Linked DNA regions of Homo sapiens. Each later gene encodes a partner of the first gene's protein in a complex. Each region holds a gene or a part of one and is shown in the gene's direction. Other genes may lie near its edges. The genes, in order: KANSL2, KANSL3, PHF20 and KANSL1.

Region 1 (7,721 bases):
TGTTAGGTGGTGATAAGCACTTAAAAAAAATTTTTTTTTTTGAGACGAAGTCTCACTGTCTCCCAGGCCAGAGTGCAGTGGTGAGATAACAGCTCACTGCATCCTTGACCTCCCTAGGCTCAAGTGATCCTCCCATCTCCTGAGTAACTGGGACTACAGGTGTGCACCACCACGCCTGGCTAATTTTTTTAGAGATGGGGTCACCCTATGTTGCCCAGTCTGGTCTTGAACTCCTGGGCTTAAGCGATCTGCCCGTCTGGGCCTCCTTCACTCTTGTTGGGATTATAGGTGTGAGCCACCACACCTGGCCATAATAAGCACTTTGGAGACTAAAACAGGGAATAGGGGATAGGGATGTGTGTGTGCATGTGTGTGTGTGAGCACGTGTGTGTGTTTAGGTAACTAGGGCTGTGGGAATTGGAAAAAAGGTGGCTAGGGAAGGCTTCATGACCAGAAGCTTCATGACCTTTAGGGAAGACCTGAAGGAGGTGACAGCAAGTCATGGGAATAACTAGGATAAGATCATTCCAGGAAACGTGAGACATCAAAGGTTCTGAGGTGAGAATATGCTGGTATGTTTGAGAAATAGCAAGGAAACCAGTGTAGCTGGTATAGGAATGAGTGGGGAGGGGGTATTGGAGAGAGGAGAGTAGCAGGATATGAGGTTAGAGAGGCAATAGAAAGCCAGATACAACAGGACCTTGTATAAAGACAGTGAATGGAACAGACGCTATTGGAAAGTTTTGAGAAGGGAAATGACATCCAACTTAGGTTTTAAAATGTTCATTTGGGCTGCTGTGTTGAAAATAGATCATAGGAGTCAAGGGCAAGGAGCTCTCACAATTTAGGTAAGAGATGAGGGTGGCTTGGACAGGTTGGAAGTACCCAAGGTAATGAGAAGTGATGTATCTTTTTTTTTTTTCTTTGAGATGGAGTTTTGCTCTTGTTGCCCAGGCTGGAATGGAATGGCGTGATCTCAGCTCACTGCAACCTCCGCCTCTCAGGTTCAAGCGATTCTCCTGCCTCAGCCTCCCAAGTAGCTGGGATTACAGGCATGTGCCACCACACCCGGCTAATTTTGTATTTTTAGTAGACACAGGGTTTCACCATGTTGGCCAGGCTGATCTTGAGCTCCTGACCTCAGGTGATCCACCCGCCTCAGCCTCCCAAAGTGCTGGGATTACAGGTGTGAACCACCTTGCTCAGCCGAGAAGTGATACAGCTTGAAGATGGAGCTAATAGGATTTGCTATGAGGTGGAAGAGAAGGAAGTGAAGGATAACTCCCAGTGTTTGTCCTGACCAACTGGAAGGTTGGGGTTGTCATATACTCAGGTAGAGATGACTACGGGAGTAGCGGGAGGTTGGCTTTAACATTAAATTTGAAATGCCAATTAGACATCCAAGTGGAGATGCCTACTGGACAGATGACTAGAGAGTCAAGTTCAAAGGAGGGATCCAGGCTGGATATATGCATTTGGGAGATAACAGCTTATGAATGGGATGAAACAGAGTGAGATAACTAAGGAAGTAGTAGTAGAAAATAGAAATGTTCAGTGTTTAGAATTGGGGAAAAGAGAAACGAGACAGAGAGTGGGTGACTGATGTAGATGGGAAACTAGGAAGAGTATGGAGATCTAGAAAGAGTATAGAGTTCTAAGGAGGAGGAGTGGCCAAGTGTGTTAGACATTGCAAAGTGGTCTAATAAGATGATGCCTGAAAACTTCATTAGAATTAGCAAGGTGAAGGTCTTTGATAACTTTTTTTTTTTTTTTTTGGAGACAGTCTTGCTCTGTCACCCAGGCTGGAGTACAGTGGCACAATCTTGGCTCACTGCACCCTCTGCCTCCTGGGTTCAAATGATTCTCCTGCTCAGCCTCCCAAGTAGCTGGGATTAAGGCACATGCCACCACACCTGGCTAGTTTTTGTACTTTTAGTAGAGATGGGGTTTTACCATGTTGGCCAAGCTGGTCTTGAACTCCTCGCCTCAGGTGATCCACCCGCCTCGGCCTCTCAAAGTGCTGTGGTTATAGGCGTGAGCCACTGCGCCCAGCCGTTTTCATCTTTTTTCTCACTTTTCTCTAGGATTAGCCCCCCAAACTCTAGTTTCCTAATCCCTATTTACAAATAGCTTCTGGTCTACTTTAACCTCTTCAATAGCTACAAAGTGTTCAGTGAATTAAAAATAACCATCTACCTCCAGCCTGGGCAACAGAGCAAGACTCCATCTCAAAAAAAAAAAAAAAGCCATCTACTTTGTTAAACAGAACAAAGAATTTGCTGACATCTTGAGCTCTTAATATCTGCTCCCTCCTTTCACTTAGAAGTGGTTCTAGGCCGGGCATGGTGGCTCACGCCTGTAATCCCAGCACTTTGGGAGCCTGAGGTGGGCAGATCACGAGGTCAGGAGTTGGAGACCAGCCTGGTCAATATGGTGAAACCCTGTCTCTATTAAGAATATAAAAAAATTAGCCGAGCATGGTGGCGCACACCTGTTGTCCCAGTTACTTGGGGGGTAGGCTGAGGAAGAAGAATCCCTTGAACCCAGGAGGCGGAGGTTGCAGTGAGCCGAGATCGCGCGCCACTGCACTCCAGCCAGCCGGGGCGACAGAGCAAGACTCCCGCTAAAAAAAAAAAAAAAAAAAAGAAGTGGTTCTAAATAGTAATGTTTTGTCTGTCTTGGACTTACAAGAAGGATTCTTTTTTCAACTAAGACCTTCAGTAAATTCATTGAAAGAAAGTCTTTTGTTTCTTCCCCATCTATTCCTGTGTCTCTTCATATTGTTCACTACAGTAGTTTTAATGTTGCTTTTTGATATTACTACATTTGGTTGCAGATTCGGATTCCCAAATTTTCTGTGACATGACTGCCTCTGGCTGTTTTTTAATTATAGGGTGTTTATAACAAAACATCTTTTTTCGTACTCCTGAGGGTTGGTCTGTTTGCTTATGTATATAAATCATTGTTATTAATATTATGTTTGTATTGCATCCATAATCCAAAGCTATCCTAGAATGTTCACTCCAAGAGAGCAGGGTTATCTTCCTTGTTCTCTCCTGGCACTTAGGTGCTCAATAAATATTCGTTGAATGAATGAATTTCAGGCCTTCTTCTAGGGCTGCTCTAGTCTCTGGAAACAGCACAACCCCCAAGGTTTTTTTTTTTTTTTAATAATTTATCGGTCCTATAGTGTATTTATTTATTTATTTATTTATTTATTTATTTATTTATTTGAGATGAGGTGTCTCCATATTGCCCAGGCTGGGATCGAACTCCTGAGCTCAGGTGATCTTCCCACCTCAGCTTTTCAAAGTGCTGGGATTACAGTGGTGAACCATGACGCCCAGCCTTAGTGTTTTTCTTGAGGGCTGTGGAATCTTTATGTTCACTTCCACTGGGACTCATGCTCACTTGCTCGTTAGGCATGGATAAAACATCTTTCTTAAACTGACAGTGAGGAGATAAGAGATGCTGGAAAGCAAAAAATGTCTAGAAGGGTTATGGGAAGAAAGCTAGGAATCATTTCTACAAGTGGTGGAGATGACAGAAAGATGCTTTTAAACTAAAAATCCTTAAAGGATGGTATGATTGGTATTGTGTCTGTCATTTTTATGATACCTGCATTATTTAGCATGGAATTTTAAAGACAGGGCACACAGTTATGAGAAGCAGCCCTAAACTAGAACAAATATTTCCTTATTCTCAGTCCAATGCTCTTTACTATATAAGAGGCAATAAGGGATAAAGAATGCGGGCTGGGTTCAAATTCGTCTTCCTTTCCCATTTAATAGCTATGGTCCCATTCTGTTCCTCAGTCCTCTTATCTGTAAAATGGACATAATACTAACCTGTACCTCTTAGGGTTGCTTTGAAAAATTCAATGACTTTATACATGTAATTCCCAGAATCAGTAAACACCCAAAAAATGTTTCTCAGTGTTCTCTATACCAAATGTTCAGTACATGTATTGAACTGTTCACAAAAGAAAGCTAAAGACTTTTTATGTGTAAACAGTGATCCTCCAGCCTCTGTCTGATTTATTTTTTATTTATATATTTTTTTGAGACGGAGTTTCGCTCTTGTTGCCCAGGCTGGAGTGCAATGGCGCGATATCGGCTCACCGCAATCTCCGCCTCCCAGGTTCAAGAGATTCTCCTGTCTCAGCCTCCCGAGTAGCTGGAATTACAGGCGTGCACCACCACGCCCGGCTAATTTTGTATTTTTAGTAGAGACGGCGTTTCTCCATGTTGCTCAGGCTGGACTCGAGCTCCCGACCTCAGGTGATCTGCCAGCCTCAGCCTCCCAAAGTGTTGGGATTACAGGCGTGAGCCACCGCGCCCGGCCTGTCTGTCTGATTTTATACTAGCTGTGTACAGTGGTGAGGGAACAGCAGCCTAGGACCACAGACTGAGGGTCCAAAAGTAGCCGGAAAACGAGCCACGCTGCAAGGTGGAAAAATATTAGCTGGCAACCCGCCCCGCAGCCCGCTCTCCGCCCCCTTCCCCGGCTCACTCTCCTCCGGGCGGAGTTGCTGACAGACAGTCTGTCTTAGCCACCCCAACCTCGCATTTTCTCAGCGCTCCGCCCTCCCAGACACGATAGGTAGTTGGTCTCGGCCAATGGCGACATCCTGTCATACGAGCGGTAGCCAATGAGTAGCCAGGAGTCCGGAAAGGGGCGAGGCCGATCTGAGAGCCGCTGGCGCCACTAGAGAAGGGCGAGCGGCGCGGCAGAGTGCGGCGCAGCGCAGCTCCTGAGGTAAGATGGCGGTGCTCTTTCCTCTAAGCTCTTGCGGTTGGGCTGCTATTTCGCTCTTTTTGTCAGCTCAGAGCTGCTACTCCGCCTCAAAGCAGTGTCAGAGTCAGTCTCCTTCCTGCAGGCTTCCAGGAGCCAGGATCTCCGGTGACTGGAGCCGTAGGACAAAATGGCGCTCGCATAGGCTTCCGAGGCCAGGCCCAGTCGTGCGCTCTGAGGCAGGCCGGGACAAAGGCGGCGTGCGGGGAGGCGGCGTGGCCGCCGCGTGGGGCTGGTGTTGTCGCTTCCCTTCGTGCTGCAGCTGTGCGAGTCCTGAAGATACATTCAGCGTGGTGTGGTTCGGGGTGGGGCCGGGCATGGAGGGACACGCTAAAGGGAGGCAAAGCCACAGATGCCTGTGGAGACTTGGGGAGGGCGGCGGGGACTTACGGAGCGTACCTTACGGGGACGACTTCTGCATGTCCTTTGGAAACTGTCCGCGCGATCTGTGTGGAGCAGGAATTTTCGGGAAGGGTAAGGGCTTTTTGGTCTTTCGTTTGACCCCGCAGGTTTTGGTTATGAACAGGATTCGGATTCACGTCTTGCCAACCAATCGGGGGAGGATCACTCCAGTGCCCAGGTCTCAGGAACCTCTGTCTTGTGCATTCACTCATCGTCCATGCTCTCACCCTCGTCTGGAGGGGCAGGAGTTTTGCATTAAGCATATCCTTGAAGACAAGAATGCACCCTTCAAGCAGTGTAGTTATATATCGACGAAGAATGGAAAAAGATGTCCCAATGCTGCCCCAAAGCCAGAGAAGAAAGATGGGTATATATGTATAGATATATATGTCGTTTTTCTTAAAGCGAGGGGGTATGTGATATGATGCGGGCTTCAGCATAGCTGCCGCGTTTGAGATTTTGTCCTTGTAAATTTGGGGTTATGGTTGTATCCTTGGAAAACTGAAAAAACGGTGAAGACTGGAAAGACCCTTGAGTTGGATTACTTAGTTCACCTCTTTGGTTCTTTTCCCTTATCTGTAAAATAAAGGCATATTCTAAATTAGTCTTTTTTTTTTTTTTTTTTTTTTTAAGAGAGATGGGGTCTTGCTATTTTGACCAGGCCGGTCTCAAACTCCTGGCCTCAAGGTATCCTCCCATCTCGGCCTCCCAGAGTGCTGGGATTACAGGCGTGAGCGACCGCGCCCGGCCCTAAAGTTAATTTTTTGGCGGGGGGGCGGCGCACAGATTCTTGCTTTATTCCCCAGGCTGGAGTGCAGTGGAGATCTCGGCTCACTGCAACCTCCTCCTTCCAGGTTCAAGCGATTCTCCTGCCTCCTAAGTAGTTGGGACTTAAGGCGTGCGCCACTATGCCCGGCTAATTTTTGTACTTTTTAGTAGAGACGGGGTTTCACCATGTTGGCCAGGCTTGTTTTGAACTGCTGACCTCAGGTGATCCATCCGCCTCGGCCTCCCAGAGTGTTGGGATTACAGGAGTGAGCCACCGCACCTGGCCCCTAAAATTCTTCTTAATGGAGGGGTGTGTGGCTCTATTTGGCTGTCCATGAATTTTGTTAAATAACATGCAAAGTTATATATGTGTGTATTCTTCTGTAAGAGGCTTCATAGTTTTCATCATGTATGCAAAGGTATCCATGCAAAAACATAACCTGACTAGATAATTTTTTACGTATCTTATAGTTTTAAAATTGTGTCCCTGGCTGGTCGCAGTGGCTCATGCCTGTAATCCCAGCACTTTGGGAGGCCACGGGAGGAGGATCACTTGAGGCCAGGAGTTGGAGACCAACCCAGGCAATACAGTGAGACCCCGTCTCTACAGAAGATTAAAAAACTCGCTGGGCATAGTGGCGTGGACATGTAGTCCCCACTACTTGGGAGGCTGAGGTGGGAGGATCACTTGAGCCTGGGAGTTCCAGACCAGACTTGGCAACATAGACTTCGTTTCTACAAAAAACTAAAAAAAATTTGCTGGGCACAGTGGTGCATGCCTATAGTTCTAGCTACTTTGAGGCTGAGGCAGGAGGATCGCTTGAACCAAGCAGTTTAAGGCTACAGTGAACTATGATTGCACCACTGCACTTTAGCCTGGGCAACAGAGCAAGACCCAATCCCTTGCCTCAGCCTCCCAAAGTGCTGGGATTACAAGGGTGAACCACTTCATCCGTCCTGTTATTTCCCTTTAATAAAGTCAAATGAGTTGACCTTGGGCCAGTTAAATTCCTCTGACTTGCATTTTTAGAAATGAATGTAATAGTCATTTTAATTCCCTAAAAATGATTTAAAGATTAGGGACTGTGAACATTATTGAACGCTTTCAAGAAGGAACTTATAAAATATTAATGTTTTGTCTCTTCAGGGTGTCCTTCTGTGCTGAACATGTCCGTAGGAATGCCCTGGCACTTCATGCTCAAATGAAGAAGACCAACCCAGGGCCTGTGGGTGAAACACTCCTGTGCCAGCTGAGCTCATATGCTAAGACAGAGCTGGGGTCTCAGACTCCAGAAAGTAGTCGCAGTGAAGCCAGCCGAATACTAGGTAAGGACCTTCTCTCCTGGAATGAAAAAGGAGGAAGAAAGTTAAGGGGGAACTATTTTGGGTTAGCACAATGCCTTGATCTATTTGGCAATATTGTTAATTCATCAGGAATTTGGTGAGAATGCTGGGATTGCTTTGTTGTTTACCAGTTCTTTTGAATTTGAAGTTGTGTTTGCCTAGGTTTACTTTCCTGAGTTGGTGACCATTTCTTTCATTGCTTTTTTAATGCTCAGCAGCTTTGTTAGGTAATTTCAGGAAACAGTAATTTTAAGTTGATTTTTCTGTTTGAGAGGGCATGGTTTACTCATTTATGTTGTAAGTAATCTTACTTGGGTTGTATTTTCTTAAAGCGTTTTTATTTGCCAGTACCTTTGTACTAAGTGTTTTTTTTTTTGTTTTGTTTTTAAAATTTCAAGGTTTGGGTTGATAAA
Region 2 (7,458 bases), on another chromosome or scaffold:
TCCCAGCGATCCTGGGGTGAGTGGAGCCCCACTTCCTGTCTGTTGCTAAGCAACAGACAGGCTGTCACAAAGGTGGGCGGTTCTTGGTTCTGGAGAGGAATTAATGGGAAAGAGAAGGGGGAGGAGGAACAGGGTATAGGTGACTGGGCCTGTAGAAACAAAACCACCTGGCTGCTTTCACCCCCTTTTCTTATTGCCCAGGCTGGAGTGCAATGGTGCGATCTCAGCTCACCGCAACCTCCACCTCCCTGGTTCAAGCGATTCTCCTGCCTCAGCCTCCCGAGTAGCTGAGATTACAGGCATGCGCCACCACGCCCGGCTAATTTTGTATTTTTAGTAGAGATGGGGTTTCTCCATGTTGGTCAGGCTGGTCTCGAACTCCCGACCTCAGGTGATCTGCCCACCTCGGCCTCCCAAAGTGTTGGGATTACAGGCGTGAGCCACCAAGTCTGGCCTTAAAAAATTTTTTTTTGCCCACCCCACACCTGCCCTCCTTGCCGTCCTTTTGATTTCAAGGTCAGACATAAGGTTGATGTTTTCTCCTTGTACAAGCAAGTTGTCTGGAGCCAATCATTGCCAAAGTCACACAATGTAGATGAGAAAATAAGAAAACAGTGAAGTGACCTGAGAAAAGGGATAGGAAAATCAAGGACTATTTCTGTGAGGTCTCAGGGAAAGTTCTTCCTAACGTGGAAACCTTTTTACTAAGAAAAACCTAAGTTTAGATACGAGACCCTCTTTGACAAAAGGAAATTAGCTTTTGAATTAATGAGCTCATATGGAAGGTCAAAGAAGACAATGCGGTTTTGAAGTGGCTGTCTTTATGGCTGTCTGAGCCTCTGTGCATTAAGATGGAGCTGGGGCACCTATTCTTATTGTCCACAGCAAGGCTTTTTAGGCTTTAGGGTTGAACATCGTATAAATTACATCTTATCCAATAGTTAGAATGAAAACTAATGAATATTTAAATGCTGGGATTGGTGGCTCATGCCTGTAATCCCAGCACTTTGGGAGGCCAAGGTGGACGGATCACTTGAGGCCAGAAGTTCGGGAACAGCCTGGCCAACATAGCAAAACCCCATCTCTACTAAAAATACAAAAATTAGCTGGGCGTGGTGGCACGTGCCAGCAATCCCAGCTACTTGGGAGGCTGAGGCAGGGGAATCGCTTGAACCTGGGAGGTGGAGGTCACAGTGAGCCAAGATTGCACCACTGCACTCCAACCTTGGCAACACAGCGAGACTCTGTCTCAAAAAAAAAAAAAAAAAGGCCGGGCGTGGTGGCTTACGCCTGTAGCCTGTAATCCCAGATCTTTGGGAGGTTAAGGCGGCCGGATCACGAGATCAGGAGATCAAGATCATCTTGGCCAACATGGTGAAACCCCGTCCCTACTAAAATACAAAAAATTAGCCGGGCATGGTATTGCGCGCCTGTAGTCCCAGCTACTCCGGAGCTGAGGCAGGGGAATCGCTTGAACCTGGGAGGCGGAGGTTGCAGTGAGCCGAGATCACGCCACTGCACACAAGCCTGGCCACAGAGCAAGACTGTCTCAAAAAAAAAAAAAAAAAAAAAAAAAACAATGTTTAAGAACAATCTATTAGTTAATGAAACAACTACTTAGCAGTAAGCGTACCACGCAGTCTAAGAGATGAATGGATTCAAAGACTGAAACGCTGGGTCAGTGATCAGGGTGCTGATTGCTTTCTAGTGCAGCAGATTAAAAAAAAAAGTGCTTCTTGGAAGTTTTTCTTGAAATCTAAACACAACACAGTGCTTTTCGCTTTGTGAATGGCTTTTCAAAGTAAGCGTGACACAAAAGACCCTGTAAGTGAAAAGCTGACAGATTTGACTGTATTAAATAAAAAATTCCTATGTAGAAATTATGCCTTAAAGCTAGAAGACAAATATCAAAGCAGGGAAAACATTTTCAATATACTTAATGTCCAACAGTTTATTTAATAAATGTTTATAGAGCAAGCTCTTAATAAGAAAAGGATGACTATCCCAAAGGAAAACAAAGGCAAAGCTCCTATCAGATAATTGCCCAAAATGACAAAAAAAAATTTTTTTTAAAAAACCCTCAGTCTTGTTAATAATCAAAGAAATACAATGAAATACAATTTATGACTTTGCCAAATTGGTTTCAAAAGCCAAAAAAGATGTAAAAAAAAAAAATCAAACTCACTGGGCACGGTGGCTCACGCCTGTAATCCCAGCACTTTGGGAGGCCAAGGCGGGCGGATCACGAGGTCAGGAGATCGAGACCATCCGGGCTAACACAGTGAAACCCCGTCTCTACTAAAAATACAAAAAATTATCCGAGCATGGTGGCACACGCCTGTGGTCTCAGCTACTCGGGAGGCTGAGGCAGGAGAATCGCTTGAACCAGGGAGGTGGAGGTTGCAGTGAGCCGAGATCACGCTACTGCACTCCAGCCTGGGCGACAGAGAGAGACTCTGTCTCAAAAAAACAAAAACAAAACAAAACAAAAAACTCATTAATAAGCAAATAAATGGGATAAGATACCATTTATCACCTCTTAAATTGGCAAAGAATGAAACAAAATGATAAACGTGGTGTGCTGAGGAAAGGAAGGGGCAGAGAAAAGATACAAATCTGTTTTTAGTGGGAATGGGAATATAAGTAGAGAAATAGCAGAACCCTGGCCCCAAACAAGCGCCCAGGAGACAAAGTTAAGGGTAGGGAGAGGTGGGGCAGGGGCTGCTCTATTTGTGATAATTTCTATGGCCTTAAGCTCCATATTTCTAAACAGCACTTTTAAATAGCATTCCTTGATTTTTTCAAATCTATGAGGCATTTTCCCAGTTTTATTGTTTTCCCCGGGGCTCTCCCTCCTGGTCTTCTCTTCTCCCCCAGCTGAGACTAGTGGTCCCCAGTCCTGCAGCATAGCTATTGTCCTGGGATACTCTTTGCCATCACCTTCAGAATTCCTCGTCTGCTTCTTGTGTTAGACCCTGCTTCCCCGATCCTATGCCTTCCGTCTTCTCAGTTTACCCTCTCATCTTTGTGGAACACAGCTTTGAGTGGCTTTCTGAATGTTTCGAGTGTTTGCATGTCTGTACCTATCTTTTTTTTTTTTTTGAGACAGAGTCTTGCTGTGTCGCCCAGGCTGGAGTGCAATGGCGCGATTTTGGCTCACCGCAACCTCTGCCTCCTGAGTTTGAGAGATTCTCCCACCTCAGCCTCCCGAGTAGCCGGGATTACAGGCATGCGCCACCACACCTGGCTAATTTTTGTATTTTTAGTAGAGACAGGATTTCGCTATGTTGGCCAGGCTGGTTTTGTACTCCTGAACTCGTGATCCACCCTCCTCAGCCTCCCAAAGTGCTGGGATTACAGGCGTGAGCCACCGCACCCGGCCATTTCTTTTTTTAAATAGAAACGAAGTCTCACTGTTTTGTGCAGGCTAGTCTTGAACTCTTGGGCTCAAGCAATCTTCCCACCTTGGCCTCCCAAAGTACTGGGATTATAGGCATGAGCCACAGATCCCGGGTGAGATTTATCATCTTGAACCATGTCTCTTGCTGTCTTGTCTCATGTCTCTTGATGTCATGTTGTCAGTCAGTCAACCAAATAACCAATTATTGATCAGTCAACATTTGAACAATTACCTATGTTCTGGGTGTATGTTCTCTGGAGGATACAAAGGTTAATGTCCCTGATTTTGAGGATCTACTCTCTCTACACAAAACACATAGGAAAGTTAACCACACAAAACAATCTAGGGTCAGTAACAAAATTCTTTTTTTTTTTTTTTGAGACGTAGTCTCACTCCGTCGTCCAGGCTGGAGTGCAGTGGTGCAACCATGGCTCATTGCAGCCTGGACCTCCCAGACTCAAGTGATCCTCCCACCTCAGCCTCCCGGGTAGCTGGGACTACAGGCATACACCACTATCACACACACCTAATTTCTAAAATTTTTTGTAGATACGGGGGTCTCATCATATTGGCCAGGCTCATCTCAAACTCCTGAGCTCAAGAGGTCCTCCCGCCTAGGCCTCCCAAAGCGCTGGGATTACAGGCGTGAGCCACATTAGGTAAATTCTTAATGAGTAAATTCAGGTGGCTGCCCTGGTGGAGGTGGACCGTTGGGTGCTCGACCGCCCAGAGGGCACAAAGGACCAACACGGTGGGGGTGGCGAGAACTGGGGCCGTAGAAGCCAGCCTAGTCCTCCGCCCTCGCTTTCCCTACTGAATATGCGCGAGGGGGAAACTCCAGCCTAGTTGTTGACTTTCTGCTTCGGACATGCTCGCGTGTTCTTGGCTCTCCTCTTCCGGACAGAGGCGCCGGAGCTTCATCCGTTCCGGGCTTTGCCGCTCACCGCCTCTCCCTTCCCAGGCCGTAACCCGCTTCCGCGTTTTACTCGGTGCCCGCAGCGCCGGGGCGTGGAGGCGTTAACGCGCACGCGCTTAGGGATCCGGCCGTGGCCGAGCGCGCGGCCGTAAGACCGCGGGTGAGAGCAGCGTTGGCTTCGAGGGGAGTGGCGGGCCGTGGGGATCGCGGCCGTGGTTGGGACGGCCGGGGGTCTCGGCGAGGGCTTCAGGGCTCCCGGGGCATGCGGGGGCCCGGGCTAGGGCCGGCTGCCGGTGCTGGTCGGGCGGGGCGGGTCGGGCCGGGGGCGGGCTGGCAGGGGCCGCGTCTGGGCCTCCGTGACGCGGACGCCGAGCCCTGCCCCAGGGAGCGGGAGGCGGGAGGCGGGGGCCAGGCGGCTCCTCCTCGTCGCGAACTCTGGATGACCTTGGCCAAATCGCTTCAGTTCCCCGAGCTGGCGACTTCGTCTGTAAAATGCGAGTCATAGCCCTGTCTCCTAGATGGGCCGTGTGGAGGCTCAGTGGCGGGAACGCCTGCGGGGCAGCCGGGGTCCTGGGCGGTTTGCTAGGGACGCCTCACTGGGGGTGAGGGTGAAAGGGCTTCCACGGGGATCATTTTGTCACAGGCTTTGTTGGGGGGGCAGTTTTCATTTTTATGTAAACAACTCTGGAATATTACGAAGTACTTAACAGAACTTTTGTTTCGCACAATACGAGAGGCTTGAAGAAGTGGAGCCCTAGCTGGGATTCGCTTTTTTGAGGCCGGCGTTGCCCTGCCCTTTAGGGGTGCCCACGCTCTAGCTGCGGCCCCGGCTCCCTTCGCATTGTCGTTAGAGGATGGTGTGAAGCAACAGAGATCCTTAGCTTTCAACGAATTCATATTTGTGATTTCCTGTTTGTCAAAACCCTTCCTGCCCACCTAGGAAGTGGTGCTGGCCAAGCAAGTTTACTGTCTGTCCACGCGAGGTCTTTCTGAACCTTGGGGTCGGTGAGCTCTCCCGTTAGGTAATTTCAGTTCGCTAGAGGTTGAGTATGGGACAACTCGTGGCACCATAGTTTTTTTTTTCTTTTTTTTTGGTGTTGGTGTGGGATTCCACGAACCGTCCCCACCAGAGGTCTGCCGTGAAATGGATACTCAATAGGAATGATAGTAGGTTACAAAAGTAAGCATGTTAGATGGTGTAGATTGGGAGAAATTTAGGATATTGGAATTGACCTAAACTGAAACTTTTCACTGCAGGTGACTAGCATGCAGATACCCATGCTCTGACTTTCTGCCCCTCCACTGACATGGCCCACCGGGGTGGGGAGAGGGACTTCCAGACTTCAGCTCGACGCATGGGCACCTCGCTGCTCTTCCAGCTTTCAGTGCATGAACGGGAGCTGGACCTGGTTTTTCTGGATCATAGCTATGCCAAGCCTTGGAGTGCCCACCCAGATGCCAGTAGTGCCCGCCCCACCCGCATGCTCTTTGTCACTCCCCGGCGGCAGCACGAAAGTACCATGTGAGTTGGGGCTTCTAAGGGCTGCTGGTAACCTCACTGGGCAGTGATCAGATGGGAATTTAGAGAGGATTTTCTCAGGATTGACTGGGGGAGATTGTATGAGGCATTTGGATGTTAAATTCAGGCATCTCTTAAGCAGCATAAGGATAGCAGGCTTGAATGTGGCTATCTCTGTGAGACAGCTAACAAGAGTTAGGAAAGCAAGACGTGCAAATGAAAAGCAGACAACCTATTCCACTTAGATAGTAGGACGTGTGGAAAGGGGAAAATCGTAGAGGGTTATTTAACTGGTGAAGAAAAAGACTGAAAAGTTGATTTTAAAAGATTACCCACAGGATACGACTCTTTTATCACATTAGTCCAGTGCTCTGGGTTGCTTGACAGTGGCAACAATAGCCTTTTTATAGTAATGCATTTTGCTTTTCTTGGTTTCACACACGAAGGTTAGGAGCCAATTCCCAAGACGTTGCTTTTTCTCTTCCCTTGTTACAGAGCTGCTATCCATAGGTTAATCTAAACCCTTCTTATGTCTAATGATATTTTCACCCAGCCTATGTTATAGGGTAAGGAAGTTTCATAAATTGACTACCTGATGAGTGATACAGTTACATTTGGTCTAAATAAACCTGTTTGCCAGTTCTTTTGCACTTTAAGGCATTCTAATTATGTTTCATGATGTGTTGATATATTCCGTTATGGTGATCAAATCATGTCCTTAATAATTTTGTAAACTTTTGGAGAAGAGTTTTGTCTGTTTGTTTTTAATCTGACCTAATGTTTAATCTTTCCTTAAGCACTGGTTTTAATTTTGTTGGGGGTTAGAGCCCTTGTAGAGGCTTCTTTAGAGTCACCCCTCCTGGAATTGAGACTTAATGACCTAATGAGTTAGAGATACCACAATGTGTGTGTGTGGTTTTTTTTTTTTTTGAGATGGAGTCTTGCTCTGTCGCCCAGGCTGGAGTGCAGTGGTGTGATCTTGGCTCACTGCAACCTCCACCTCCTGGGTTTGAGCGATTCTCCTGCCTCAGCCTCCTGAGTAGCTGGGACTACCGGCGTGTGCCACTGTGCCTGGCTAATTTTTGTATTTTTAGTAGAGACAGGGTTTCCACCCACCATGTTAGCCAGGCTGGTCTCGAACTCCTGACCTCAGGCAATCCACCCGCCTCGGCCTCCCAAAATGCTGGGATTACAGGCATGAGCCACCGCTCCTGACCCACTGTGTGTTTTAAACATGTGCAGAATAGTGTCTTTTATTTCATTTCCCAATGACTTTATAATTTTGTTGGCTTTTTTGGTGTACAGGAGATAAAATCTGTAACTTTAGGCAATAATTTAGCATAATCTTGATGCCTCTGGCCTAGGGCATAACTGAAAAGCTCCTTTAAATAGTAGTTGAAGTCTTTTCCTTTTTTGCTGCATATTAGCTTCTTGCTGACATTAAAACTCCTGTGTCCACATCTCATGACATTTTCTTAAAGTGAGATTCTGTGGACTTGGTTCTTTTGGTACTTAGAAAATTGTTTCCTTTTATAATCTCTGTCTCCAAATATAGACCCTGAAAGTGAGAATTTGGCATGCTGTAAGAACTCTTTTAGGCCAGTGTGGCCAGAATATAATAGC
Region 3 (7,022 bases), on another chromosome or scaffold:
ACAGGGTTTCACTGTGTTAGCCAGGATGGTCTCGATCTCCTGACCTCATGATCCGCCCACCTTGGCCTCCCAAAGTGCTGGGATTATAGACGTGAGCCACCGTACCCAGCCCTAAACTAAGCTTTCATAACCAAGTTTTAAAATAGGAATTTGGATGTAACATTCCTTTTTTAAAAAGCCGGCCTGCTTAGCTGGGTGTGGTGGTGCACACGTATAATCCTAGCTACTTGGGAGGCTGAAGCAGCAGAATCTAGGAGGCGGAGGTTGCAGTGAGCTGAGATCATATCACTGCACTCCAGACTGGGCAACAGAGTGAGACTCAGTCTGAAAATAAAAAATTTAAAAAAATTTAAAAGCTGACCTGGCGTGGTGGCTCACACTTGTAATCCCAGTGCTTTGGGAGGCCAAGGAGTTCAAGGTTACAGTGAGCTATGATCGTGTCACTGTACTCCAGCCTGGGTGACAGAGCAAGACCCCATTTCTTTAAAAAAAAAAAAAAAAAAGCCTAGTAAGCTATTATATGAAATATATATATATATATGCCATTGTTTTACAATTGGCCATTATTTAATTATTTATGTAGTTATATGAATAGTACTTTATTTATTTATTTATTTATTTATTTTTGAGACGGAGTCTCGGTCTGTTGCCCAGGCTGGAGTGCAGTGGCACGATCTCGGCTCACCACAACCTCCACCTCCTGGCTTCAAGCAATTCTCCTGCTTCAGCCTCCCGAGTAGCTGGGATTATAGGTGCACACCGCCATGCCTGGCTAATTTTTGTATTTTTAATAGAGACGGGGTTTCACTATGTTGGCCAGGCTGGTCTCGATCTCCTGACCTCATGATCTGCCTGCCTCGGGCTCCCAAAGTGCTGGGATTACAGGTGTGAGCCACTGCACCCAGCCTGAACAGTACTTTAAAACTAAAAGACAAAGGATATTTAATGACCATGAAAAGTAAAAAAGTCTTTTGGCATTAGAGAGATTATTTTCTTAAATAAAAAATGTTGCCTTGGTGAGCAGTGGTCTCTATACACATGATCTTAGTGTATTTGAACAGAATTTTTTCCTCTGTAACCTTCTGTCTTGCTAGCAACCACTATGCTAGTTGGAAGCTGTTCTGCATCTTTAAAAGAGACACTTGGGATGGTGCAGCACATGGTATGGAGAGGGTGGCCTGCTGGATGCTGGGGTCCAGAGGAGATGCTGTTGACTTCCCACAGTCCTGGCTTTGTTCTTCAGCCTAACAGACCTAGACAGACAGCTTCCATCTCAGGAACTCCACACACTCCTGTTAACCAAGCTCAGGCACTACTGAGTGGCTTAGACTCTTCCAGTCTGAGCGTTGGTGCGCTTTCACACTGTGCATGCCTCCTGGGCCACCGTAGTATCGGGATGTCTTTGGTGAGCCTGGAACTAGATCCAAGGTAGTTAGGGTGACCTTAAGAGGGGCCTCTCAGCAACTGTAGGATCATCTTGCAAAAGATTGACTGACTCTCTTTGCTGTTGGAGTGACCCATCCAGTCCTGACTGCCTTTTGTCCATTTATTTATTTTTATTTTATTTTATTTTTTTAAGACGGAGTCTTGCTCTTTCTCGCCCAGGCTGGAGTACAGTGGCATGATCTCGGCTTACTGAAGCCTCTGCCTCCCAGGTTTAAGCGACTCTTCCTTCCTCAGCCTCCCAAGTAGCAGGCAGATGCCTGCCACCACACCTGGCTGATTTTGTATTTTTAATAGAGATGGGGTTTCACCATGTTGGCCAGGCTTGTCTTGAATTTCTGACCTCAGGTGATCCACCTCCCTTGACCTCCCAAGGTGTTGGGATTACAGGCGTGCACGTCCGGCCTCTCCATTTATTCTTCTGCCTGTTTGCTGAACAGTCCCCTGTCTCCTTCTAGTTTTTTTTAAAGACTTACTGGTGTTTTGAAACTGGTCACTATCCAGTTTTCTTGCTCAGCAGGCCACTAGTTCCTCTCACATGACTGATCTTTTACTAATGGTTTTCAAGCTTAAGTCTGAGGAGGTGGTCTTATTTTTCTTATTTCCAAGTCCTTGTACTTGCTGGAATTAGGAAGAGAGAGGGTTCCTCCTTCTTGGAACCCCCAAATACCAACAAGAAATATGATGGAGGAGGATAAACTACATAGGGCCCAGAGCAATGGGTAGGGCGCTTTGCTGGACCACACATTCCTTCTCTCGCTGTGTTTGTTGCAGGCTTGCCACATTTCAGACACAGGTGAGTGTTAGGGATATAGTGGCAAGCAAGGCAGACTCAGCCTTTGCCCTCGTGGAACTTGATCTAGTGGGAGAGACATATATTAAACAAATCATCCCATTACCTGTAATGACAAACCATAGTAAATGCTCAAAGGAGAACATGTGATATCATAGCACCTGTAACACAAGGACCAGATTCAGGGTATAGGGTTGGGGAAGGCTTCCCTAAAGAATAGCTCACAAGAAACAGAGGATTTAGAAAGGTGGAGAGGAAGGTAGGGCTGCATCTGAGGACAGGAGAGGATTGCGCAGTAGGTTGCAGGCTGCTTGATGAAGAGGTACTGGGTGGGCCTTTCTTTTGCTGCACTCCAGGGTCCAGAAGGTGCTCAGTACAGGTTGGTGCATGGACTAGAAAGGCTACAGGCAGGCTGGGATAGCACAGGGGCTACCTGCAGGGGGTGGTTCTTGTCAAAGGTGCAGGGTTCCCAGATGGTCTCTCCCCAAATGCCAGAGCTTTAGGGGGTAGCTTAGGGAAGAACAAACATCTTTCTGTAGAGAAATACTTGTTCTCACAAGCAAGACAGCTTTCTAGATATTGAACCAATGATGATAATGTTAATTAATACCTGAAATCTTACATTAAATATTTAAAGGGGTCCTGCATGGTGGTTCATGCCTGTAATCCTAGCACTTTCAAAGTGGCCAAGGCAGGTGGATCACCTGAGGTCAGGAGTTCGAGGCCAGCCTGGCCAACATGATGAAACCCCATCTCTACTAAAAATAACAAAAATTAGCCAGGCGTGGTGGTGTGTGCCTGTAATACCATCTCCTCAGGAGGCTGAGGCAGGAGAATCGCCTGTACCCGGGAGGCGGAGGTTGCAGTGAGTCGAGATCATTGCCATTGTACTCCAGCCCAGGCAACAAGAGCGAAACTCTGTCTCAAAAGAAAAAAAAAGGCCAGGCCCAGTGGCTCATGCCTGTAATCCTAGCAGTTTGGGAGGCCGAGGTGGGTGGATCACCTGAGGTCAGGAGTTTGAGACCAAAATACAAAAATTCGCCGGGCGTGGTGGCACATGCCTGTAATCCCAGCTACTTTGGAGGCTGAGGCAGGAGAATCGCTTGAACCTAGGAGGCAGAGATTACAGTGAGCTGAGATGGCGCCACTGCACTCCAGCCTGGGCGACACAGTGAGACTCCATCTCAAAAAAATAAATAAATAAGTAAATAAATAAAGGGAGAAAATAATAACAGAGTATTCTGTGCCACTGATGATTGCGTATCAATCAGGAATTAATATGAAGCAAATCAGAGTTTATGATATACAAATAGACCTTTTCAAGACCCTATAGATTTTCATTTTTCTTGACAGGATGCTAAAACACCAGGCTCTCTGATTTTCAACATGGGAAAGCTTTTTATTTTTTATTTTATTTTATTTTATTTTATTTTATTTATTTTATTTTATTTTATTTTATTATTTTATTTATTTTATTTTTTGAGATGGAGTCTCGCTTTGTCGCCAGGCTGGAGTGCAGTGGCACGATCTCGGCTCACTGCGACCTCCGCCTCCCGGGTTCAAGCAATTCTCCTGCCTCAGCTTCCTGAGTAGCTGGGACTACAGACGGGCACCACCATGCCTGGCTAATTTTTGTATTTTTAGTGGAGATGGGGTTTCACCATGTTGGCCAGGATGGTCTTGATCTCTTGACCTTGTGATCTGCCCGCCTCGACCTCCCAAAGTGCTGGGATTATAGGCATGTGCCACCGCGCCCGGCTGGGAAAGCTTTTTAAAGAGTGAGTGGTAACACTCAGAAAGGTGCTTCCTTCCAAGACTTCTAGACTCTGGTAACAGTAGCCTCTGGCAATGTGTGGCTGTTTAACCAAAACTGAATAAAATTTAAAATTCAGTTCCTCAGTTGCATTAGCCATGTTTCCAGCGCTCAATAGCTGCATAAGGCTAGTGGCTACTGTATTGGATGACACAGACTTGGACCATTGATCATCGCAGAAAGTTCTTTTGGACTGTGCTGCTCTAAAGCATTTGTGTTTTGTCCTGGGAGTACCACTTTGTAGAGCAGGTGTTGACACAGTGCTGGCTGAAATGGCCCTTCCTCCCTTGCCCCATGGAGGCTGAAATGGCCCTTCCTCCCTTGCCCCATGTCTGATGGAATAAGGTGCTGAAATGCTTGCTGATGTTCTTGCAAATCAAGTGTTGGGAGTTCACTAGGTCTCATCTCTCTCTTCTGCCGACAGTGTTGGAGAGCTGGCTGGACTACACTGGGGAACTGGAGCCCCCTGAGCCGCTGGCCAGGCTTCCGCAGCTCAAGCATTGTATCAAGCAGCTGCTGATGGACCTGGGCAAGGTGCAGCAGATCGCCCTCTGCTGCTCAACATGAAACTGGGCACCCAAAACTCATGGGGGCACAATCCTGGGGCACCTGCAGGAGGAGCTTCGCATATTTAAATAAATAAACCTAGCATGCTGAATGCACGTGACACCGACTGACTTCAGGGATCTGGGCCAGGAGTGTGGTGGACATTGGACAAAGAGGCCATTTTGGCTGCGGGAGGACACTCTGATCTCGAAGCCTGCCATAAAGGTAGCAAATAGACTCTTGGGATTCCCCTCTTCTGTGCACATCGTTGAATGAAGAGAGTCTTTTTGCACAAACTTCACTTGAAATTGTGCCACTGATGATAAACGGAATGAGAGCCAAAAAAGTTTAGTTGGAGACAGTTGTAAATTCAATTTGGAGTTTATTTAATTGACTTTTCTATCACGTTGGGGCACATGCCAACTCCCTGGTTTCTTCCTGGCATGGTGTTTGGGCAGCAGGCATCATTTTCCTTTTCTAGCTTCATAGGAATATTGTGAGCTCACCATGCTGTGGAGGTTGGGAAAGAGCAGAGTCTTGGCTGCCCTGCTTTCTCCTTAGGACTCTTCACTTTTCTCACCACATCTCTTGCATGACTTCATGGTACTGGGGACAAGTTTGTATGCCTTCACCCCAGAGCTGGCTGGGTTATGGCTTTTGTAGCAGAGCCCATACAGCCTATGGAAGAACTAGAATCTCACTCACAGTAATAAGAATCTAGGAGGAATTCCAAACCGAAGCAGGCAGGGTCTGGAACCCAAAGGACAGCATTTTCTACCCACTTCTTAATATTGACAGCTTCCCCGTTCTATTTAATGTCCAAAAATGTTTCCCAAAATTTCAAACTCTTTCACTGTAAAGATTTGTTACAAAGAATGTGGTTTGGGGAATTACCTTATTTTATATTGTTGTAAACAAACTTCAAATTCTACATGTGCGACTTTTCTCCTTCCTGAAGGGTGTTTAGTAGTCAGCGTTTTCAGAATTGTTTTGTTACTATACTTTAACATTTTACATTTCCTGTTTGTATTATTTTGTGAGAGCAAGGTGATCATGCTGCTTAAGGTCCAGGTACAACCTATTTGTACCTTTTGAGACAATATTTGTGTTACTTTTGCAGGTTACGGTTCCACATGTAATTGCTATATTTTGTTTTGTTTTTCCTTACTAGGCAAAGTTAAAATGTTCCATGCTTTGAGGAGTGACCCATTTCACTACTTTGTTTTCTTATCACTAAAGGCAAAAATCAAAGCACAGTTGTCCATTAACACTTATAAGTTAATTATGGGTTTATGAGTCTGTAATGTTATATGCTGCAAACATTTACTATGTAAACGTGAAGTAGCCAATAATATCTCAATAGTAGTAACAGTATCTTTAGCGACCTTTGGAATAGTTAAGCACAGGTCATTGTGGACATGAATTCAGGCCTCTGTACTAAAATCTATTTCAGGGAATGTTCTGTCTAGTGATTTGCTCACCATTTGATATATAATGAATTATAGGACAAGTATAAGCTGATCTGCTATAGCTGTCCATCAGAGAGAATACACGTGGCTATAACATCTATAACAAAACGACGATTCCTCTACAAGAGGCTGTTTCTCACTGCTAACGTTGGTGTTTCTGGCGTGGGAAGAAATGCACAGGCGTGCATGGCATGCACGTTCAGACAGCTGCATTGTAAGAGTTCTGTCATGCAGTCTGAAAAGGGAAGAAACAGGATGGCTTTCTGTAGCCACACCTGTGAGGCGTGATGATTGTTGTATTATTAGATTACTGATTTTTCTTTTCTGAAAATACATTTGAGTTTTAATCACATCTGTGGAAGCTGTAACTTTTAAGGTAGTCAATTTCATGTCTTGTTCAACGATGTAAGCAGAAACTGAATTGCCCTAATTTTGCCAACTGGCCATTATTGGGATTATTGTTTAAATTTTTGGTAAAGGAAGTAATCTCCTTTCATTCATTGTGACTTTTGTTCTTAGGGAAGCAGAGAAGACTCCCCAAGTTCTTATAACCTCATTGTGCTTCCCTAATTTAAAGCCATGTTGAGGGGCTCCATTCCCAATTCCTGGGTCAAGGTGAATTAACCCTATGTTGGAGCACTGGAAACCGTTATTTGCAAACATTGCTGTTACCATTTAGAAATATGTGCACTATCAGCTGGGTGCAGTGGCTCACGTCTGTAATCCCAGCACTTTGGGAGGCCGAGGCAGGTGGATCACCTGAGGTCAGGAGTTCGAGACCAGCCTGGCCAACAGGGTGAAACCCCGTCTCTACTAAAAGTACAAAAATTAGCTGGGCGTGGTGGCGGACGCCTGTAATCTCAGCTACTTGGGAGGCTGAAGCAGGAGAGGTGCTGGAACCTGGGAGGCGGAGGTTGAAGTGAGCCGAGATTGCGCTATTGCACTCCAGCTCGGGCGA
Region 4 (7,022 bases), on another chromosome or scaffold:
TCGTATTTGACTTTGGTGCTTTACCAACGTGAGATGTTAAATTTTTGTCTGATTTTCTTTCTTCCTGCCTACACATGTTATTTCTCTGGTTAAACCTGCAGAGCACTCTTTGTTACGTGAGTGTTTCCTGTTGAGGAAAATTCTGGAAGTTAGAAAATGAGTAGGCCTTAGTTCACTTGTGAACTCATATCAAGGTGAGAAGAAAGTGAAGTAACTATACTAAACTTTTTTCTTCACTGTCACTAAGGCTACTCTTCCATCTCTAGTAATGCTACATTGTAACCAGTGTCTCTGCGTCTTCTGTAGAGGATTGAGTTGACCACAGGTTTTAATTGCATTTTAAAGTGAATAAGAAGTTTTAGGTTTGTTCTGTTCGTTATGACCTGATTTGTGTACTCTGTAAACATAGGGGTGTTGTGGTTGTTTGAGAAGGTATTTTAGTATTGAGAGGTTCTGATTAGGCCCCTTTGCGAGTAAAGCTTAGTTACCTTGTTATATCAGGCAAGCAATTTTTTTTTTTTTTTTTTTTGAGGCAGGGTCTCGTTCTGTCGCCCATGCTGGAGTGCAGTGGTGCTATCTCAGCTCATTGCAGTCTCCGCCTCCCAGGTTCAAGCGATTCTCGTGCCTCAGCCGCCTGGGTAGCAGGGACTACAGGCATGTGCCATTGGGACTACAGGCGTGTGCCACCATGCCCAGCTAAGTTTTGTATTTTTAGTAGAGACGGGGGTTTCACCATGTTGGCCAGGCTGGTCTCGAACTCCTGACCTCAAGTGATCCACCTGCCTCGGCCTCCCAGAAGTGCCGGAATTACAGGCATGAACCACTACGCTTAGCCTAGACAAGCAATTTTTAAAATGTGCTATAAAACACCAAACTAATCCACACTGGATTTTCTAAACATAGTAAACGCCATGTTTAAAGAGTAATGCGTATTCCTTTTATGTTTTTTCAGCTTGTGGGGAGATGGGTAGGGGCTATTTTTTTCTTCTTGGTGAGTCCATTAAGACACAGAAATAAGCGACTTTCTTGCTAGATAGATGTATATAGTTTTATTGTCCCTCTCCACCCCCCAACAAAGGACCTCTCCGTTCCATTCCTTGAGTTTAGAGGGGAGGGACTAGGGTAAACTGAATAAGTGGTTGTCTGTTGATTGCCCCAGAGTAAATCTTATTGAGTGGTTTAGAGATTTTGTTTCTTTTTCATTTTAGAGACGAGGTCTCGGGGTCTCGCTGTGATTCCCAGGTTGGCGTGCACAGATGTAATCATTGTGCGCTACAGTTTAGAGTGCCTGAACTCCGGGGCTCAAGTGATCTTCCTGCCTTAGCCTCCTGAGTAGGTTGAGCAACGGGAGCATATAACCTTGCTTGTCTTTTTTTTTTTTTTTTTTTTTTTTTTTTTTTTTTTGAGACAATCTTTGCTCTGTTGCCCAGGCTGGAGTGCAGTGGCGCGATCTTGGCTCACTGCAACCTCCACCCCTAGGGTTCTAGCGATTCTCCTACCTCAGCCTCCTGCGTAGCTGGCATTACAGGTGCCCACCACCACGCCTGGCTAATTTTTTTCTATTTTTAGTATAGATGGGGTTTTGCCATGTTGGCCAGGCTGGTGTTGAACTCCGGACCTCAGGTGATCCACCCACCTCAGCCTCCCAAAGTGCTAGGATTATAAGCGTGAGCCACCGGGCCTGGCCCCTTGCTTGTCTTATTTAGAGTTTTAAAGCAGCTTTCGTTGTACTCTTTCTTCATTTTAAATGTTCCTGCCTTGAGTGATTTGATTAGTCTATGTCTTGGGAAGCGTATTTTACCTTAGTGCCTCTTTACTTACTTACCTTAAGAAAGGAGTACAGGGCAGGTTCTTAAGTAAAATGGCCCCAGACACCTGGCTTGCCTACTGTGTCAGTGCAAAGAACACTTGGATCATGTCTTTTTCCTAAAATTGGACTTCATAACTGTTTCTTGGAAGTCTGTTTTAAGACTTTTTTAGTTCTCATGTTGCTTCTGAAGATGTATGTTTAAATTACAGTTTCTATGCTGATAAGTTGCGTATATACCTCTGGGCATACTAAAAGTTGTGCAGAACAATAGTTTATATGACAAGATAAGTTTCCCTCATCAGTACTTCCCATTCCCTGAAATGTGAGATCAAAACTCAGTTGAACCACACTATGGCTGTAGAAGACAGTATGAATTAGAAAAGACAAATATCCACTGTACTAGAGTTCACCAGCGTTTGAAGGCTATCAGAAGATATAGGAGGTAAGTGATATCCTTGGGTGTCACTTGCAGATTGAGGGGAGGATTGTGGGTCATAGGAGATGACTAGTATGGCAGGGGGTAACTATTATTATTTGTTTCTTTTTTAAGCCATGTGCCTTTTAGGATGTAGAACAAAATACATAGGAGAAAATAAGCCAAAAGGTGTGATTTACCAAAATACTTGGACTCCAAAAAGAGCTGCAATATATATTTTTTTTTATTAAGCATTTTCTTGTCTTTGGTAGAATAAAGGTAAAGCTAAAATAGAGTGCGGAAACTGACTTGACCAAAGTAGAAAACACAGCTCATGTTTATGAATCAAAAACAAATGAGTTTGGGCAGTCTGAAAGAAAAAAATCAAACATTTTATATGAAGATTTTAAACCTTTATGCAAAGAGTCCCTTTAAGGTGGAAGAGACCTTTTAAATAGAGTAGACCTTCCCCATTTAGTAGCACAATGCGGCAAAATAGTTGTTTAATAAATGTTACTTTCTGCAAGCCTTGCTTTTCCAAGATTTTAAGCTGCTTCCACAGTGTTAACATTTGAAAGCCCTCTACCAGGAAATTATTTAGCTGTGTATTTTATTGTTGCTGACTGTGAACTTACCCTTTTTTTTCCTGGCTGTAATTTTTTTAGAATTAAAGTTTCTTTCCAAGATTTTGAGGGTCAGGAAATGCAAAGTGGAGGTAGATTGAGTGCAGTTTTATCTAAATGTTATTTTAAAAACTCTGGTTCTTGTAACCTGAACCAGGAATCCAAAATGAGATCTTACTCTGAATTTTAATTACAGCAGATTCTGCTCTTATTTGGAAAAAGTTGCTTGAGTGACATCAAACTTAATGGAGTCCCTCACCTTTTAATTCCTTTTTAAAAAGGGGAGAGCTTAAGGTTAGACTTGGTTAAATTCAGTTGGAAGGTAAGTATTAGGGAATAAAAAAGAGGAATAACAATTTTGTTGTTAGGATGTTAAACCAAAAATTGCTAAGAACTCATATCTAGACTTTCCTCTTGCTGCTTGTTATTTGGCCTTTGTGACTGTTTGTTAGCACCTCCACCAGAGGGTGTGAAGGGAAAGAGGCTCAAAGCTAAGTACTGTAGCTAGTTTCTGGTTTCTAGTATAGGAGAGACACTTCATAGAAATACCAGCCTGGGCTGGGTGTGGTGGCTCATGCCTGTAATCCCAGCACCTTGGGAGGCCGAGGCGGATCACCTGAGGTCAGGAGTTTGAGACCAGCCTGGCTTAACATGGTGAAACCCTGTCTCTACTAAAAAAAAAAACAGCAAAAATTAGCTGGACATGGTGGCGCATGCCTGTAGTCCCAGCTACTCAAGAGGCTGAGGCAGGAGAATTGCTTGAACCTGGAGGCGGAGGTTGTAGTGAGCCGAGATCGCACCACTGCACTCCAGCCTGGGCGACAGAGAGAGACTTCGTCTCAAAAAAAAGAAAAAAGAAATACCAGTCTGATAAGTTGAACTGTCAGGAAAGTTTCATTAAACTCTCCATATGTTACCATGGAGAACTGAAGCTCTTTGAAGACCTTAAGCATGTCTCCAAAAAATTGGACTGTATTTTTTTGCACTTAGTGATTTACTCCTTACCCCTTGCCTCCCAAGAGAATGAAAAATGGATATTAGTATTGACTTAACATTTTATTGGCATTGGAAAAATGTACTTTTAAAAGTCATTAATTGACTTTTCTCTAAAGGTATAAGGTAGGTTTCAGTGGGAACTCAGGAATTTGGCCATGGACCCTCCCAGAATAACCTGTTTCCTTTAGAATTCTTTTTTTTTTTTTTTGAGACACAGTCTCGCTCTGTGCCCCAGGCTGGAGGTGCAGTGGCGGGATCTCAGCTCACTGCAAGCTCTGCCTCCTGGGTTCATGCCATTCTCCTGCCTCAGCCTCCCGAGTAGCTGGAACTACAGGTGCCCGCCATCATGCTCAGCTAATTTTTTTTTTTTTTTGCATTTTAGTAGAGACGGGGTTTCACTGTGTTAGCCAGGATGGTCTCGATCTCCTGACCTTGTGATCCACCCGTCTCGGCCTCCCAAAGTGCTGGTATTACAGGCATGAGCCACCGCGCCCGGCCTCCTTTAGAATTCTTAAAATCTTCCAGAAGTCGCTGATTTTAGGATTGTTCAGGAGCACTTACACCAACCATTAGGGCTTGTTGGAAAGAGATATGATAAAAAGTATGATTTTTTTTTCCTCTGTCTTTTGTCAGCTAAAGAGTGGTAGGAAATTTGAATTCAGTGCTAGCATAGAAGTAGGATTAACACCATTAATAGTTTGATATATAGACATCCTTCAGAAAAAAAAGTTTTCTTGAGATGGTATCTTGCTATGTTGTCTAGGCTGGTCTTGAATTCCTGGGCTCAAGCAGTCCTCCCACCTTGACTTCTAGAGTAGCTGGTATTACAGGCATGAGCCATGGGGCCTAGCCTATCCGTGTGTGTGTGTGTGTGTGTGTGTGTGTGTGTGTGTGTGTGTATATATGTGTGTGTATATATATGTGTATATATATATGTTTAATGGGATCATACTTGTTATATGGCTTGATCTTTTTAATTAGGGTTTTTTTTTTGTATTCCAGTTCTTCAGTGAAAGCATTGTGTATACATCTTTGAGTACCTATGAGAATATTTCTGTTGAATAGATTTCTAGAAGTGCAGTTGCTGGGTAAAAGTTTGAGCAATTACATTTGTGATTTTGATGGCTATTACCTTTATAATGCTGTGTAACCACATTTAATAATAGCTTAAAAAGTGTAGTTAAAAAGTTTCCTAGTCTGGGTACAGGTGCTTGGTCAAGTAAATAACTGGAACTTGTAGTGGGTGAAGCCTATCCTAGGTTCAGTTGATGCCTCTTCTTGTTAGGTGGTTGATCACTTCAGACATCCCCATTAACGTCCTAATGGATCTTCATCTGATGGGTTTAGCATAGAATGCTCAGGTTGCTTAACGTGTGTTGGTCTGCTGTCTGCCAGGCATTGTGCTGCTTGTAGGGGACAGAGATAAAACAAGCTATAACCCTCCTTTTTTAAGAAGTACATAGTTGGCCAGGCGTGGCGGCTCATGCCTGTAATCTCAGCACTTTGGGAGGCCGAGGCTGGCGAATCACGAGGTCAGGCCAGGCCAACATGGTGGAACCCTGTCTCTACTAAAAAAGACAAAAAATTAGCTAGATGTGGTGGCGGGTGCCTGTAATCCCAGCTACTCAGGAGGCTGAGGCAGGAGAAACGCTTGAACTCAGGAGGTGGAGGTTGCAGTGAGCCAATATTGTGCCGCTGCACTCCAGCCCGGGTGACAATGAGAGGCTCTGTTTCAAAAAAAAAAAAAAAAAAAAGTACATACTCTGGGGAAGAAAGAGACAAGACAAAATTGTGAGTTTATATTGTACCATGAGCAATAGCCAGGGTGTCATGGGGGTGCAGGTAAGAGCCTAGAGGGAGGGACCCCACCTCAACCTGGGAGTAATGGGGAATACTTGAAAGAGCATGTAACCTTGAGCTGAACCGTGAAAGAGTAGCATGAGTAAAGGTGCAGGGGCATAGAAGAGCCAGGAAACATATGTTTCAGGTGGCTGCAGTGAGGACAGGCTGGAGATGAGGTCTAATGTAAAAAGGGGACAGATAATGGTGTGTGGGGAATTTGGACTCATCCTTACTCTAGAGTCAGTGAAAGATTTTAAATGGTTAGATTTAGGTTTACCCCCTCCTTTCCTTTTTTCTTCCCTTTCTAATAATCATTTTGGTAGTGGACGCTAGATTAGAGGCTTGCTGAGACAGGAAGAAGGAAGAATAGTTGGGAGATTATTACTGCCTGAATTACTATAGTACATAATGAGGTTCTGCACTAGGGCATTGGCACCAAGGATGGAATGAATGTGCCTGTCATTCTGTGTGTTGCCAACCCTCACCCTCTGTGCACCACCTCACCTTTCAAAATTCAGTCAGTATGTCATCTTTTCTAGAAGCCTTCCTTGACCCCTTCAGGTGAAATACAGTACTTTATCAAGCTAGGCTACCTTCACACCTAATTTATATTTTACTATCTTGTATCTGGCATTTAGTAGATGTTTAAATTAAATATTTATGGTAAAAAGTAAGTTGGTGATTTGAGGTCATGATTAACTCAAATAGACAATGTTGAGGAGCAGGAGGAAGTTTTGGATTTGGTGTTGGGGCAGGGAATGGGTTTTGAATATGGGATGCTTGAAGTAGTTGTATAGGCAATGCTGAATTCTACTCATTTCTTTCTTTTTGTTTTTTTGGAGACAGTCTCATTCTGTCGCCTACGCTGGAGTGCAGTGGTGCCATCTCAGCTCACTGCAGCCGCTGCCTCCCAGATTCAGGTGATTCTTGTACCTCAGCCTTCTGAATAGCTGGGATTACAGGCAAAGACGGGGTTTCGCTGTGTTGGCCAGGCTGGTCTCAAACTCCTGACCTCAAGTGATCTTCCTGCCTTGGCCTCCCAAAGTGCTGGAATTACAGGCGTGAGCCACCTCTCCCGGCCCTACTCCTTCCCTTCCTTCCCTCCCTCCTTCCTTCTTTCCCTCCTTTTCTTCTCTCACCTCCTCTCCCCTCTCCCCTGTCTCCTCTCTCCTCTCTCCTCTCTCCTCCCCTCTCCTCTTTTCCTTCTTTTGAGACAGAATCTTGCTCTGTAACCCAGGCTGGAGTGCAGTGGCGTGATAACAGCTCACTGCGACCTCCACCCGCCAGGCTCAAGTGACCCTCCCACTATGCCCAGCTAATTATTATTTTTTTAGAG

Evidence for each region.
Region 2: KANSL2 (region 1) and KANSL3 share a complex: the UniProt entries of both Homo sapiens proteins name them as parts of the NSL complex.
Region 3: KANSL2 (region 1) and PHF20 share a complex: the UniProt entries of both Homo sapiens proteins name them as parts of the NSL complex.
Region 4: KANSL2 (region 1) and KANSL1 share a complex: the UniProt entries of both Homo sapiens proteins name them as parts of the NSL complex.

Annotation. Positions count from the first base shown.
Region 1 is NC_000012.12:48,679,224-48,686,944, reverse strand, and holds the start of KANSL2 (KAT8 regulatory NSL complex subunit 2), read left to right. Parts: upstream 1-4,706; 5' UTR 4,707-4,758; intron 4,759-5,303; 5' UTR 5,304-5,312; coding exon 5,313-5,563; intron 5,564-7,111; coding exon 7,112-7,290; intron 7,291-7,721. UniProt on the Homo sapiens protein: Non-catalytic component of the NSL histone acetyltransferase complex, a multiprotein complex that mediates histone H4 acetylation at 'Lys-5'- and 'Lys-8' (H4K5ac and H4K8ac) at transcription start sites and promotes transcription initiation.
Region 2 is NC_000002.12:96,635,301-96,642,758, reverse strand, and holds the start of KANSL3 (KAT8 regulatory NSL complex subunit 3), read left to right. Parts: upstream 1-4,446; 5' UTR 4,447-4,476; exon of another isoform or gene 4,477-4,499; intron 4,500-4,767; exon of another isoform or gene 4,768-4,918; intron 4,919-5,410; exon of another isoform or gene 5,411-5,573; 5' UTR 5,574-5,623; coding exon 5,624-5,838; intron 5,839-7,458. UniProt on the Homo sapiens protein: Non-catalytic component of the NSL histone acetyltransferase complex, a multiprotein complex that mediates histone H4 acetylation at 'Lys-5'- and 'Lys-8' (H4K5ac and H4K8ac) at transcription start sites and promotes transcription initiation.
Region 3 is NC_000020.11:35,943,012-35,950,033, forward strand, and holds part of PHF20 (PHD finger protein 20), read left to right. Parts: intron 1-4,473; coding exon 4,474-4,616; 3' UTR 4,617-7,022. UniProt on the Homo sapiens protein: Methyllysine-binding protein, component of the MOF histone acetyltransferase protein complex.
Region 4 is NC_000017.11:46,183,414-46,190,435, reverse strand, and holds part of KANSL1 (KAT8 regulatory NSL complex subunit 1), read left to right. Parts: intron 1-7,022. UniProt on the Homo sapiens protein: Non-catalytic component of the NSL histone acetyltransferase complex, a multiprotein complex that mediates histone H4 acetylation at 'Lys-5'- and 'Lys-8' (H4K5ac and H4K8ac) at transcription start sites and promotes transcription initiation.